Homo sapiens: one gene and its partner. The protein of the gene in region 2 purifies or fractionates together with the protein of the main gene of each other region. This does not show direct contact. Each region holds a gene or a part of one and is shown on either strand. Other genes may lie near its edges.

Region 1 (3,500 bases), on a different chromosome or scaffold from region 2:
GTAGAGTTATTTTTCAACTCTGTAATTGTAAAATATGTTGGGTAATTTATTGGTACTAAAGGGAGGGTAATCATGACACATCTATGAAGAGGGTTTCTTTTTTGTATTATGTGTGTGCATATGGTTTTCTATTTTTATTTTTTCAATACCCAAGATTAAAAACTGGCCATGAGTAGTCTTGGGCAGGAGTCTTCCAGGCATGAATAAGTGGGAGTTGTCTGTATGTTAAATCTGTATAGAATTGGCCGGGCGAGGTGGCTCACGCCTGTAATCCCAGCACTTTGGGAGGCCGAGGTGGGCAGATCACAAGGTCAGGAGATCCAGACCATCCTGGCTAACACGGTGAAACCCTGTCTCTACTAAAAATACAAAAAAATTAGCCATGCGTGGTGGCGGGCGCCTGTAGTCCCAGCTACTCAGGTGGCTGAGGCAGGAGAATGGCGTGAACCTGGGAGGCAGAGCTTGCAGTGAGCGGAGATAGTGCCACTGCACTCCAGCCTGGGTGACAGAGTGAGACTCCGTCTCAAAAAAACAAACAAACAAACAAAAAATCTGTATAGAATTAGCAAGTGACCCTTTGTCTTTCATCGAAAGCTCTTGACCTGCAACAGTGCGGCCTCACCAATGAAGGAGCAAAGGCTTTGCTAGAGGCCCTTGAAACCAATACAACTCTGGTCGTTCTGGATATAAGAAAAAATCCACTCATTGGTATGTCGCTACAATATTTTTTATTGACTAACAAATAGCAAAAGAAAAAGAATTTCTCATGTATTGACAGTTTTGAAAACTTAATGTGTTTCCTTCCCTAATCTTACACTTTTGTAATCTTGCACTTTCTTATGTTTTTAGTAGATAATTTACTGATGAAAAGAGTTGTACTTAAATTGCTCTTGGCTGCTACTCTGAATAGGAGTGAACCTAGATAATAAATCTGCTTCCACCAAGTGCATTATTTTCTTCTTGTGGAACTTCTGAATTCTTGGAAATAGTATTTCATTCATTTGTTGATTTGACAAGTAATTTTTGAATACTTCTATCTGCTAGATACTGGTTTAAGCACTAAACATACAGCAGTAAACCAGCTAGACAAATTCTTGGTCTCATAGAGCTTACATTCTAGTTGGGGAGTTATACGTAATGTAATTTAGATAGTAGGAAGTGCAAAAATACCGTAAGGTAAGAAGACAGATGGGGGCAGGTGGGACTATATTAGATAGGTTTTTTAGGGGACAGCTTCACTGAAAAAGGGACATTTGAACAGAGACCTGATTAGGAGGGGAACAAGCCGTGGAAGATGCAGATAAAGTACCTTCCAGGATGAGGAAGCAATGAATATGTAGTTACATAGGTGGCAGGGTGGATGGAGTATTTAAGGAAAAGCAAGAAGGCCAATATGGTTGGGGCACTGAGTGATGAAGAGACTGGTATGCTACAAAGTCAGACAACTAGCCAGGGGCCTGATCTTGTAAGGTTTGAAGGTCACGGTAAGGACTTAGATAATTCTAAATGAGCTGAAAACCATGGGAGGATTTTGAGCTGGTAAGGGTTATATTCCAAGTAGTAATTCAATCAGATGACTTGGTGTGGAGAATACACTTGTAGGGGGCTATAAAAGGGAAAGAGGGAGGCCAGTTAGGAGACTCACACTGGTTCAAGTTAGAGATGGCTATGGCTTCACTTAGGGTGGAAGGTTGGAGGTGGTAAAAAGTGGTTGAAACAAGGTGTAGCTAACAAGACTTGTGGGGTATAAAGGAAATAGTAATTTTTTTAAAAAGTCCTAGGTGATTTTGCATACAACTGGGTGGTACTGTTTATAGAGAAAAGGAGGCTGTGGAGAAGAGCAGCTTTGGGGGCGCATCATGACTTTGATTTGGGTATATTAGGTGCCTTTTAAGCATCTAAGTATCTGGACAGTGTTTAGGCTTTTGATTTCCTATTTAGAGGTATCTAAAGCTACTTTAGTTCCAAAGTGTTTACATTTGATCTTTGCTGCTGCCAAAATAGTAGCCATCAGGGACAATATGTGTGTAGGAATACTTTGTTTTTGAGGAAGAAGTTAGAATACTCAAAGGGGGAAAAGGTATTTAATTACATTATGTGGAATTCATATTCAATTTCATGGGAAAAAGCAATAATTGGTTGGCTTTTGTTTTTAAATGGGAATAGCCACTCATTGGGAAATAATTACTATAATTTCAATTTTTATTTTACTTTAGATCATTCTATGATGAAAGCAGTTATCAAAAAAGTCCTCCAGAATGGAAGGAGTGCCAAATCAGAGGTATATCATGTTTTATTTCTCCAGAAAGAATTCTTATTTAATTGCTTTTCTTCTGGGATCTCACTGTACTGCCCAGCCTGGCCTCAAACTTCTGAGCTCCAGTGATCTTCCCCCTTCCCAGCTTCCTAGGTAGCTAGGACTGTAGGTATATATCGTTGTGCCCAGCTTTTCGTCTGTTTTTAATAAAATGAAACTATTAAGGCACTTTTCTGCCATCTTAAATTTACAGTCAAATCAAATGTCTTTTCTGTTTTTGTAAATACCGTATGATTCTTTAATTTTGGGTCCCAGAACTGCTGATTGCAAACCTTTTATTAACATAGAGTATCTTAACAATTTCCATTTAAGATGTAGCCCTCATAAATGATCTGTAACTGAAATATAGTGTTTATTCTGTCTCTTTTAGTACCAGTGGATAACTTCTCCATCAGTGAAGGAACCATCCAAAACTGCTAAACAGAAAAGGAGAACTATAATTCTAGGAAGTGGTCACAAAGGAAAAGCTACTATTAGAATTGGTAACCTTTTCTGTCTTGGCTTTTTAATGCTACTAGTGTTCTAGTGTGTTAAAATTAAAATCTCTTCTCATTGTATGATATTGACAGTAACAACCAATATTGACTCCGTGCATATTATGAGGTCTGTAATTGTTCTGATAAGATTATGAGAATTTATGGAATGTAGAAATAGTAAATGAATCATTAGGAAAGGGATGCTAGTGCTTCCATTTAAAAAATTACCCTTATTTGTTTTTCATACAATATTCATCATTTTGGATATGTTTTCTGATTCATGATTACTTTTGATACTTTGCAATTGAAATTTGGGATGCACTTTGATGACAGTTTTAGCAGTGCTTTTGTATGATTTTGTTGTTAATGAAGAATTATCCTTTCATACGATAGAAAACAAAATTTCTTCCCAGTTCCATTTTTTTTCCCTTGTTTCCTCCTCCTTCCTTGCAAATTCTTACCCAAAGTTGTTGAATTAGGTAGCACCTTGCTTCTTTCAATGATGAAATAACCTTAAAATATATGTAATCCTTATAAAACAATACTGCAGGTAAGTTTATTACCCAGAGATGGAACATTTTAGACAAACATTCCCTAAATGTTTGCTATTTATGGTTTATTTAATCTGCCAAATAATAGTCTAGAATTTTGAAATTGTCTATAATTTTGTGACCAAGAATAATGAAAAAAGACTTTATAAACTGTTT
Region 2 (4,176 bases):
CCCAGGCTGGAGTGCAATGGCACGATCTCGGCTCACTGCAACCTCAACCTCCCGGGTTCAAGCGTTTCTTCTGTCTCAGCCTCCTGAGTAGCTGGGATTACAGGGGCCCGCCACCATGCCCAGCTAATTTTTTGTATTTTTAGTAGACATGGGGTTTCACCATGTTGGCTAGGCTCCTGGTCTCCACCCGCCTCGGCCTCCCAAAGTGCTGGGATTACAGGTGTGAGCCACCGCGCCTGGCCTTATTCATAGCTTTTGAATACCTCTGATTGCATATAGCTACATCCTAACAGGGCCCTTCATCTTTATTGAGAATCTTTTTGTTCTCACAGAATCCATTGTAAGGATCTATCCCATGCCACAAAAAAGAAGGCGTGAAGAAAGCTGGTAGAGTTGAGATGCCCCCTTGGAAGATTAAGTATTCCAGATTATTGTTGAGAATATAAAAACAATAACCAAAGGAACGGTGCAAGATTTTAAATGCACACAAATACTTAGAAAAATACTCTCCTCTGGCATATCAGACAGAAAAACAAAACAAACAAATAAGCTGTAAAGAGTTAAGCCTTGAAGAAAGTGTAGATTCATTGCTATTAGGTGGTCTGTGTGAGTATTAAGTATGATTCATATTTTGAGGAAGTGAGATATTTTAAAATGAAGGAAAAAGAAGTCGATCAGGTTATTTCATCTTAATTCAGGAAATAATACATTTTTGAGACTTTTTTCATCAGTCCACTTTGGGGATGATTATTTGGAATAACTTGTATAAGACTCATGAGGCTGCTGCAGAAAGTGTTGTTTTTATGTCACTAGTGTATGCTGCATAAAAGCTCTTCTTTATACTTTCAACAATTATGTTACCATGAACATTCTTGACCTTTTAAGTATACCTCTGAATGTTTAGATTATAAACGTGAACTGTACTGTGTTATGTTAGACTATTTGACCAAAAACGTATTTTCTACCACAAAAAAAGTCCAAAAGGAATTAAGTTAATTACAACTTCAATTGTGTTCAAGATCGGTCTTTGTGGTTCTTTATATCTGTGATTTATATATCTTCAAAGAGAGTCTTAAGTGTCTTTGGGATTGTAATGGGCATTCTAGACTAAGAGGAGCTTGTTCAGACACAAGATTTGGGGCCAATGCTTTCAATGACTTCATAACCATTCCATCTTCTTTCTACTTCTGTGGATTACCCAACAGCAATAATGATAATCTGAGCCAGTTCCTGATACTTCTCTCTATAGTCAAGAGAAGGTCAGCTATTTTTTGATCCCCATGGGAGAAAGACAGCTCCTCAATCACTATCTTAAAATAGCCAGCAATTCTCAGCTGCTGGGCTGGAGTTCCTCCAGGGGCGAGCAAAGGGAATATGAATCTGCCGGTGGGGCGTGAGCGAGAAGCCACCAAAACATGAGCTAGGACAGCCTTCTCAAGAAGATTCTGCCAACTCAAAAATATTATTCTTTTTTTTTTTTTTTTGCTGTTGTTTCTGAGAAACTAGGTGTCTTACCATTTTAAAATTTCATATTTTATTTAAAAGGAAACCAGTGAATTGAAAATGAGACTAAATATCGCTATCTTCTTTGGAGCTCTCTTTGGTGCTTTGGGGGTGTTACTCTTTTTGGTGGCTTTTGGATCGGATTATTGGCTTCTTGCAACTGAAGTGGGGAGATGTTCAGGTGAAAAGAATGTGAGTCTCTTCTTCAAAATAGTGATGCACATGGTAGTTATGAAGATACCCTTATGTATGCTCTTGAAATCAGAGAATAGTAGTGGAGTGTCTATTTCTTCATGGAAGAGATATGTAGAAAGCTACTGAGCTTCATTATTTGGGATAAAATACATGTCCTTAAAAATTTACTGGCTGTAATGATTTTGATTATATTTCTTGTATTGATGGCAAGTTACTTCATTTTGTTCTGTGCAGATAGAGAACGTCACTTTTCACCATGAAGGGTTCTTCTGGAGGTGTTGGTTTAATGGGATTGTGGAAGAGAATGACTCCAATATTTGGAAGTTCTGGTACAGTAAGTACAATTTAGCTTTATTTTCCCTCTTGTCTGTAAAATAAAAATGAACAGTTTCTTACATAGTATATGTCACTTCTAGCGGACTGGATTGTGAGTTACAAAATCTCAATTAGATGTCTTTAAAAGGTTCATCATGTAGAGATTCCTTTTCAGTAAGTAGACATGGCTATAGGAATAATTATTTTATCTTTTAGCATAAAACAGGAGTCTGAATATTTATGGCAAAACTGAATTATCCATTGTTTCACTGCTCCTGTTTAGAATACACTAACTCTAACAAACAGGACAGGTATTGTCTATAGCATTTTTTCAAGTGTGTGAATACTATGTTGCAAATAAATAAGATTTTTTTGCTATCAGCCCTTGAAATCTCAAATGTAAAAATCCATAAATAGAGATGTATTATTTTATATTCATAACTTCAAAGTTAACAGTATATTTTTTTTAAAAAAATCATGGAACTTAATTACCAGCCATGGCAGATGAAAGCTTATATTATTTGAGCTTTAACCAAGTTTGTTGGCACTATCAAGAAGTGCCTTGCTTTTGATGTTTGTGTTCTCATTGAAACTTTAAAGTTCTTTTTTAAGGTAGCATAACTTTTAAAAACTATAATGCATTTGTTCAACTCTATTCTTTATATTGAATTAATCTTTGAAAATCAATTTATTGAAAATAGCTAGCGCTTATTTCATTGTATTCAACAATGAAAGGGCTGTTTATTAGCCTAAAGCTTATTGAGAATTGAAATTATTAGTCTTCTTATCAAAAATCAAAGTATGGTATTTACATAATAGTCAGGATTATGGAATATTTAATAAAAATAGGAGGTCCCTGAAGACTTAAGCAAGCTGGTGATAAGTTGGCATATATAAGGAACAAAGTAGTGATGAAGCAGCGTTTTGAGGCAAGTACCTGATAGACTATCTTACAGTGGATTTGGGGGCAGGAGAATAAGCATACAACTTGCCAGTGGAAATGGTTTAGACTTTAGTAAAGGGAAGTAAGTCAGACTGTGCAAGAGGAAGATTTTGCCAAAGACTTGGAGAAAGAAAGAATATTTCAATATTTCAGTCCACCTTAAAGTGTACATATAAAAATTTTAAGTTCTCAGACAACATAAAAGTGCCTTCTTGTGATGTTTTCAAATATTAAAAATTTATTTGAATTATTGTATAACTTATCATTTGCATTCTTCCCTAAAATAAAATGGATATAGAAGAATTTTTTTATTAATTTGAACTAATCAAGGTTAAACTTAAGTTTATTAGATTTTTAAAACAATTATTTTTTATTCCCTACTGTGTGCTAGACACTGTTGGGTACTGGAGAGTATGTGAAAAAAGATGAAATGTGGTACCTTAAATCGTAAGGTGATATAAAGGGCATTTGCATTTATTCCATTGAATTATGTCATGTAGCTAGATGTTCTGGATGAATCCACCTTCGTCTCATGTGCATCTTGATATGAGTTTCCTAGAAGGCCTTCCTCCTCACAACAATTCGCTGAATTTGCTGATGGAACCAGTAGTTTTGTTTTGCTTGTGTAACCCTTGTGCTCTGTATTTCTGTTCCATTAAGGATGAGTCATGACTGAGCTTTTCAATAACAAGTGCCATTGTTTTGCTGTTCTTCCTAGCCAATCAGCCACCGTCCAAGAACTGCACACATGCTTACCTGTCTCCGTACCCCTTCATGAGAGGCGAGCACAACTCGACCTCCTATGACTCTGCAGTTAGTAAGTACCCTCTGTCCTCAGCCTACTTCTAAAAGGGTCTTATCTTTCTGAAGGATGCCCAGATCAAAATTGTTGTGAGCAATTAAAAAAATAATTTAAGACCTGTAATTTCAATATTTTTGATATCTGTTAGATTAAAAAATGTTATTTTTAATGTGCCATTTATAATTTTAAAGAACATAACTTTGATCTAAAAGTAAAGTCATTGTAATTTACTAGCTGCCTATAAAAGTATTTTTAAATGTGTTTTCCCATATGAAGATAGTAATATTTATTAAGAAGAACCGCTTCTTAAGGTTTTAACAGACCTAAAACGAGTCCTACAGTTGAGAATATTGTAATATACATCATACTTCTAAAACTTTATGTCATCATTACACATGAGAATATCACAGATAAATAT

Evidence for each region. The genes of interacting proteins can lie anywhere in the genome.
Region 1: the proteins of TMEM182 (region 2) and CEP78 purify together in Homo sapiens (affinity purification with mass spectrometry; one large-scale study listed by BioGRID and IntAct). This does not show direct contact.

What each region holds. Positions count from the first base shown.
Region 1 is NC_000009.12:78,246,075-78,249,574, forward strand, and holds part of CEP78 (centrosomal protein of 78 kDa), read left to right. Parts: intron 1-594; coding exon 595-708; intron 709-2,216; coding exon 2,217-2,281; intron 2,282-2,687; coding exon 2,688-2,799; intron 2,800-3,500. UniProt on the Homo sapiens protein: Centriole wall protein that localizes to mature centrioles and regulates centriole and cilia biogenesis. Involved in centrosome duplication: required for efficient PLK4 centrosomal localization and PLK4-induced overduplication of centrioles.
Region 2 is NC_000002.12:102,760,655-102,764,830, forward strand, and holds the start of TMEM182 (transmembrane protein 182 isoform a precursor), read left to right. Parts: upstream 1-1,376; 5' UTR 1,377-1,563; coding exon 1,564-1,695; intron 1,696-1,932; coding exon 1,933-2,032; intron 2,033-3,674; coding exon 3,675-3,773; intron 3,774-4,176. UniProt on the Homo sapiens protein: Negatively regulates myogenesis and skeletal muscle regeneration via its association with ITGB1. Modulates ITGB1 activation by decreasing ITGB1-LAMB1 interaction and inhibiting ITGB1-mediated intracellular signaling during myogenesis.